Linked DNA regions of Homo sapiens. The protein of the gene in region 1 interacts with the protein of each later gene in a pairwise test. Each region holds a gene or a part of one and is shown on either strand. Other genes may lie near its edges.

Region 1 (3,500 bases):
TAAGAACCTCGATAGCAATGCGGTCGTGATCATGGTGAATTACATCTTCTTTAAAGGTAAGGCCCTTGGGCCCAAACCTGCACTTTCTTTGGCTTTTCTGCTGCTTTTATCTAAAGAATACCCAATTCCCTCACATACATAAAAGACGGGGAGTACGTTAAGTTCTTTTGGGTGCCTGTTGAGAAAAATTAAGTAAACAAGCAGCCAGAGAAGGTAAGATGAATGCCTTCTTGCTGTGGATGGGATTAGTGAGGCTGAGATGCTGTTTCCTCCACGGAGGAAGAGCTGGTTGCTGTCTTCGGGCCCCTGGGGACATCTGAAGCCCCAGCTTTCTACAGGCTCTGAAGTATGAACCCATTGTGGCCACCATGGCAAAGACACCAACACCTTAGCCACTCAGGGCAGGACACAGACCCCAGAAGGGCTTAAAGGGCATTTCCCAGTCCCCCGTATCCCTCAGATCTTGGCCCCTCTGCCCTCATAGAGGCCAAGACTCCCTCAGACAAATGCTTGTTCCTCTGAAATGCCTCCTCCTGACTCCTCAGCAAGAGCTGACCTCTGCTTATCTCCCCGACACTCCTTGTAAGCATTCCTGCTCGCCTCTGCAGCTCCTGCCAGTTGCTGACCCTGGGGAAAGCAAGAGTGGATAGAGAGGAGAAGAGAGGAGAGGAGAGGGTGGGAAGGGTTGCGAAGGAAGGTAAATTGTTAACACCTCCCCTTCCTATGGTCACAGATCATGAGTATCTTTGGCCATTTGGGTGGCTATAACAAAATACCATAAACTGGGTGGCTTAGCAACAACAAACATATATTTCTCATAGTTCTGGAGGCTGAGAAGTCCAGGATCAAGGCACTGGCAGATGCAGTGCCCATTCCTTGGTTCATAGAGAGTGCCTTCTTAGTATATCCTTGCTGGAAGGAGGAAGGCAGCTCTCTGTGGTCTCTTTTGTAAGGACACCGATCCTGTTCATGACAGCTCCACCCCCATGACCTAATCAACTCCCAAAGGCCCCCTGTCCTAATACCACCACCTTGGGGGTTAGGTTTCAACATATGAACAATGTGGGGACACAAACATTGAGACCACAGCAGTGAGTGTCGAACTTGGACTCTGAGATTTCCTATCCCCTGGTGCAGGGCAGTCCCCATTACACCAGATTGCTGAGGGCAGCTGGGAAATAAGCTAAGGACGGTATTGACTGGGGTCTTCCTTCGATAACGATTAAGAAGTTGGAAACAGGCCAGGCATGGTGGCTCACGCCTATAATCCCAACATTTTAGGAGGCCGAGATGGGCAGATCACCTGAGGTCAGGAGTTCGAGATCAGCCTGGCCAACATAGTGAAACCCCGTCTCTACTAAAAAATACAGAAATTAGCCAGGCATGGTGGTGGGCGCCTGTAATTCCAGCTACTTGGGAGGCTGAGGCAGGAGAATCACTTGAACCTGGGAGGTGGGGGCTGTAGTGAGCCAAAATTGCGCCACTGCACTCCAGCATGGGTCACAGAGCGAGACTCCATCTCAAAAAGAAGAAAAAAAGAAAAAAAAGAAAAAAAGAAATAAAATAAAATAAAAAGAAGTTGGAAACAATCACTTGTAGCGTTTTGTTCAGAAGTTCCCATAGGAAGGTCAGAGAAGGGTCATTGAAGACTTCCCAATGGGAAAAACCATTCATTTCCAGGATCCATACTAACTTCTTTCTAAAATTTAAATCAAAATATTGGAATGAAAGTGCAAACAGAGAAGTTCACCCAGATATCAGGTAGCATTCACAGCCAGCCACATTTTTCACCCTCTTCACTTGGAGATTTGGTCTTGAGTAAAACGTTAGAGAATCAGAGAACATCAGGGGTCCAGGGCCTCTGAAGATGTGAAAACCAACCTCCTTGTTTTGCAAATGTGGAAGGAAAAGTCCCACGAAAAGTCCAAGAATGTGCCCAATGTTATAAAGAGACTTGCCTTCATATTCAAGAGGTTCAACAGTCACTGCTCTGGGGCTGCCATAAAGATGGTCTCCGCTGGCTATCTTTACTGTCTTCACTCCTTTTATTTGCAGCTGAGAATTTCTAATTCTGACACAAAATTCTTTTTCATTTTTCCCTTTTTTCATCTTTAGCTAAGTGGGAGACAAGCTTCAACCACAAAGGCACCCAAGAGCAAGACTTCTACGTGACCTCGGAGACTGTGGTGCGGGTACCCATGATGAGCCGCGAGGATCAGTATCACTACCTCCTGGACCGGAACCTCTCCTGCAGGGTGGTGGGGGTCCCCTACCAAGGCAATGCCACGGCTTTGTTCATTCTCCCCAGTGAGGGAAAGATGCAGCAGGTGGAGAATGGACTGAGTGAGAAAACGCTGAGGAAGTGGCTTAAGATGTTCAAAAAGAGGTACTTTCAGACTACCCCAGGGCCAGCCTAAACCCACACAGCCCCAGGGAGACACACACGCCCTACCAGGGCCACACAGCACTGGTGGGAAGGACTCACCCAGCCAAGGAGCTGCCTCCAGGCCCAGAGGCATCCTGTGACATCCAAGTCCTGGGGGCCTAGCCCAGTTGGAGGGACAAGAGCTGGAAACTGGGTTCCTTAGGGTGGTGCCAGAGTGGGCAGAGACCTCTGGGCAGCCCACGTCCAAGTCCAGAGCAAGGGGAGGCTCATCCTAGAAAAGAGGCCAGAGGAGCCATAACCACCATTGTTCCTTGGGTTAAGGAGTCCTTTTTTAAAACCATCAAAACTAAGAATCCAGTGCATTATGAATCCAAGGGGTGAGGCTCAGTGTGCCAATGCCCCAGAACAGTCTAAGAAAGCTCCTTTTCCCTTTCCAGGCAGCTCGAGCTTTACCTTCCCAAATTCTCCATTGAGGGCTCCTATCAGCTGGAGAAAGTCCTCCCCAGTCTGGGGATCAGTAACGTCTTCACCTCCCATGCTGATCTGTCCGGCATCAGCAACCACTCAAATATCCAGGTGTCTGAGGTGGGTTCAGAAGCTCCTATGCATCTGCTTCCCAAGGTCTATTCTGTTCTATTCTTTCTATTCTACTCTACCCCATTTCATTCCATTCCATTCCACTCAACTCCACTCCACTCCACTCCACTCCAGTTCACTCTATTCAATTCCACTCCACTCCACTCCAGTTCACTTTATTCAATTCCACTCCACTCCACTCCAGTTCACTCTATTCAGTTCCACTCCACTCCACTCCACTCCAGTTCACTCTATTCCATTCCACTCCATTCCACTCCTCCACTCCTCTCATCCACTCCACTCTACTCCTCCACTCCACATCTCCACTCCACTCCTCCACTCCACTCCTCCACTCCACTCATCCACTCCACTCCTCCACTCCACTCCTCCACTCCACTCCTCCACTCCACTCCACTCATCCACTCCACTCTTCCATTCCACTCCATTCCACTCCTCCACTCCACTCTTCCACTCCACTCCATTCCACTCCTCCACTCCACTCCACTCTATTCTATTCTATTCCATTCCATTCTACTCT
Region 2 (4,032 bases), on another chromosome or scaffold:
AACAGAAAGCCTTTGACACGATATTTGTAATGTCTTATTGAAACTAAATGCTCTTAGGAAGTCACACTGGACTGGGATGCATTGGCCTCTCATTTAACTAGCAATGTGACCTTGGCCAGGCCCTTTTATACAAGTACTCCTCAGTTTTATTAATTAGAAGGAACTGATGAGATGCTCTTTTAAATATCCCATCATTTCTAAAGTTTTATGATTATCGATGCTTACTGTAAAAGAAATACAACATACATATTTGAGAAAACATTACAGAGAACAGGGAGGCCCAAACATAGATGGTGCATCTCATCAACATTCTAATATAGAGTAATGATCACTGGCTCTAAACAAACTTTGCAACCAAACAGAAACTTCGTATCTGCTAATCTCACGTTGCTCCCCAAGAAAAATCTAACTGAATGTTCTGGAAAAGTAGTGGAAAAGTTAATTGTTTGCAGAAAGTTAACTTTTACCTGAAGTGACAAAATAAAGTGGTTACCCAAAGGGGTAAAACCTAGCGTTGGAGTTTATCTTATGGGTGTAGTAGATTTGCCTTAAACTCAAAGATTTGTTTTGCTGGGTTAATGGGTGTCCAGTGGATCTTGAGGATGAGAAAGGGAAGGAACTCTGTTCTATGTGTGGGAGCCTCTAACCCCTTAATTTCTACCCAATTAGAGATTTTTACTCAGTTTCATTTTTAGCGTGTACATATCCTTTCTATCATTGCCTTTATTCAAGGATAGTTTCCCTTTAAGATAATCATTAAAAATTTCTTCAGTTTTTAAAATCTTATCATTATATAGTTCACCATTATAAAAACCACAAGAGTCATGTTTTGCAAGATTTTTATAAAAAGACTTTTTACATCAAGATACTTACTGATTCAGACAAGGAACAATCCCTTTTTCTGTTTTAAACTACATATCAAGACTCAGAAAAATCCATAAACTTTCAGGTAACTTGTGTCTCTTTGCAGGCAAACCTAATTAGTGAAGATATTGAAAGTGCAATCAGTGACAGTAAAGGAGGGAAACAGAAGAGGCGGCCCGACGCCCTGAGGTAAAAGCATTGAAAGAAATCAAGGAGTGGAATTGATTTGTTTCTAAGGCTTTTTTCCCCAAAGAGTTAGAAAAATTATTTTCTATGGAAGTATATTATTGTATTGTATAGATCATAACCTGTAGTCTCAACACATTTGTTCTCCCAAGTTTGTCAGTGTGTTTACTCCTCTTCTCTCCATATTTTTGGTCTTTCTCTGATATGGCTTCACTTGTGTTGGAAGTCACAGAGTCATGAAAGATGAGTGGCATTTTAAGAGAAGGTATCCTAGGGAAATACAAGCTAGACAGTAGGATTGTAATTGTTCCATGGCCCTTTCAAATCACATAAGACTCAGAAGGAAAATCAACCTAGTTTTCAGCTGACTATTAATTTTTTTATTTCATATGCATTCATAAATATGCATAATGTGTAATGCTTAGGAAATCCTTATTGTCCCTTGACATAGTTCTTTTTGAATTTTAATAACTAGTACCACAAGTTGAGTTAATTGATATGTTATAGAAATAGAGATGGTAAAAATTCTATTTGTTTTCATCTTTTTAAGGATGATTTCCAATGCAGACCCTAGTATACCGCCTCCACCCAGAGCTCCTGCCCCTGCGCCCCCTGGGACCGTCACCCAGGTGGATGTTAGAAGTCGAGTGGCAGCCTGGTCTGCATGGGCAGCCGACCAAGGGGACTGTGAGTCTTCCTAGAATTAATACTTATTGAACACTTACTTTGGGTTGGGACATAGTTCTTGCTTTCAAATTCTGATGCTGATTTCAGAACTGAAGCTTGAGGTTAGTTTTTAAAAAATCAACTCTGGCCGGGCGCAGTGGCTCATGCCTGTAATCCCAGTGCTTTGGGAGGCCGAGGCGGGCGGATCACCTGAGGTCAGGAGTTTGAGACCAGCATGACCAATATGATGAAACCCCGTCTCTATTAAAAATACAAAAATTAGGTGGGTGTGGTGGCATGCGCCTATAATCCTAGCTACTGGGATGGTTGAGACAGGAGAATCACTTGAACCGGGAGGCGGAGGTTGCAGTAAGCTGAGATCACGCCATTGCACCCCAGCCTGGACAACAAGACCAAAACTCCATTTCAAAAAAAAAAAAAATCAAATCTTAGATAAAATAAAGTTAAGCCTTGAATTTTGTTAAGATTATTATCTGTAAGAGTTTAGACCCACCATTTAATAAATATGGTATTAGGGTTAGAGTCTTTTTATTTTTTTAATGCTAAGAGGAAGTTTTACTTGATTGACAAAAAGATGGCAACAAAATATATACAGGTTTTTCTTAAAGATTGCACTTAACATTCTTTCCATTTTTTATTATCTAACTAGAGTCCCTTTTTGGACAAGTTTGTCATATTCATGGAAAGGTTGTCAGGACAGTGGTTGGCTGCTGGCAGTGGAGAAGGGTAAAAGGTATCCATCATATGACTGTTCTTGTCAAGTGGGCCCTATGAGCGTGGCATCATTTCACCTTGGCATTCTGTTTAAAAACAATTATAACATAGAACTTAGTGTTACTTTTTATATGTTAGAATATTTTACTAGAATCTGAAATGTTTATAACTAAAAAAATGCCTTAAAATATGTTTGGTCTAGTATCTTCATTTTAAGGACGAATAAATTGTGATTCAGCAGGCTCCAATCTGATGAACTCTAGAGCCTCATTCTTTTGCCGCTACTCCAGTGGAACTTCTTAACTTCTTATTCTTTATCCAGTAAAGTATTATTCACACAGGGTATCTGGCACTATAGTTAAACGATATAACTCATTTCCAAAAATGAGTCACCTCGGACTCTACTTTGGATGTGCAGAGTAAAAGTTGGACTCTGAAGCAAGACCTGATATGTCTACCTGTGTGGTCTTGGGAAGTTATCTCTCTGTACTTCGGTCTCATCTCTGAAATGGGGATAATAATTCATGGGTTGCTCTGAATCTGAAAGTAAATAATGTTTATGGTAGTACCTACTACAAAATAGTAAGCATAATTTGTGGTTTTCATTTTGCCAAATTGAGTTCATTTTCTTTCTGAATTGTTTTCTATTTTGTTTAGGTTTCTTGTATTCTTAAAGGTTTTTTCAGAGGTTGAAATGTAAGCCGAGCTACCAAAGATATGAAAAAAAGAATTCTTTGATGCATTTATTTAAAAAAAAATTAATTAACAGAGATATGTAGTTTAATTTTATAACAGTTTCCGTTTTCATAAGTTATGTAAATTTGTATTGATCTGCTTTGTATTTAAAATGTGTTTAAAAGACAGTAATTTATTGTATTCTATACTTTTTGTGTACTTATGGTGTTTTTGTTGTTACTGTTTCGATGAAGAGGGTCTGAAGTAGAGGAAGGATAAGACAAGTTTACAGACATTCTGAACAAACCTGTAAAAATATATGTTGAACCTAATATATATAATATATATTATGTATATTATATGTTGAACCATATATATATGTGTGTGTGTATATATATATATATATATATATATATATTATTTTTTTTTTTTTTTTTTTTTTTTTTGAGATGGAGTGTTGCTCTGTCACCCAGGCTGGAGTGCAGTGGTGCGATCTCAGCTTACTGCAACCTTTGTCTCCTGGTTCAAGCGATTCTCCTGCCTCAGCCTCCCAAGTAGCTGGGATTACAGGCGTGTGCCACCATACCTGGCTAATTTTGTATTTTTAGTAGAGATGGAGTTTCACTGTGTTAGCCAGGATTGTCTTGATCTCCTGACCTCGTGATCCTCCCGCCTCAGCCTCTGAAAGTGCTGGAATTACAGGCGTGAGCCACCATGCCCTGCTGAACCTAATATAATTTATAACAAAGACAGAATTTATCCCTAGGGGTTTCTGAGCTTTCATTAAATTTTATCTGAAATATTTTCTGCAATGTCATCTGTTTAAGTGAGATAAGGCTTTCAGAACTTCTAATTTACCACTAGCCTAAACAGAAGACTTATTATATCAGGTTTGGCCTGGGTCCA

The links.
Region 2: the proteins of SERPINA5 (region 1) and EPS8 interact in a two-hybrid assay, tested with the Homo sapiens proteins (one large-scale study listed by BioGRID and IntAct).

What each region holds. Positions count from the first base shown.
Region 1 is NC_000014.9:94,587,926-94,591,425, forward strand, and holds part of SERPINA5 (plasma serine protease inhibitor preproprotein), read left to right. Parts: coding exon 1-56; intron 57-2,115; coding exon 2,116-2,386; intron 2,387-2,823; coding exon 2,824-2,971; intron 2,972-3,500. UniProt on the Homo sapiens protein: Heparin-dependent serine protease inhibitor acting in body fluids and secretions. Inactivates serine proteases by binding irreversibly to their serine activation site. Involved in the regulation of intravascular and extravascular proteolytic activities.
Region 2 is NC_000012.12:15,663,461-15,667,492, reverse strand, and holds part of EPS8 (epidermal growth factor receptor kinase substrate 8), read left to right. Parts: intron 1-970; coding exon 971-1,053; intron 1,054-1,600; coding exon 1,601-1,737; intron 1,738-2,386; coding exon of another isoform or gene 2,387-2,388; exon of another isoform or gene 2,389-2,699; intron 2,700-4,032. UniProt on the Homo sapiens protein: Signaling adapter that controls various cellular protrusions by regulating actin cytoskeleton dynamics and architecture. Depending on its association with other signal transducers, can regulate different processes.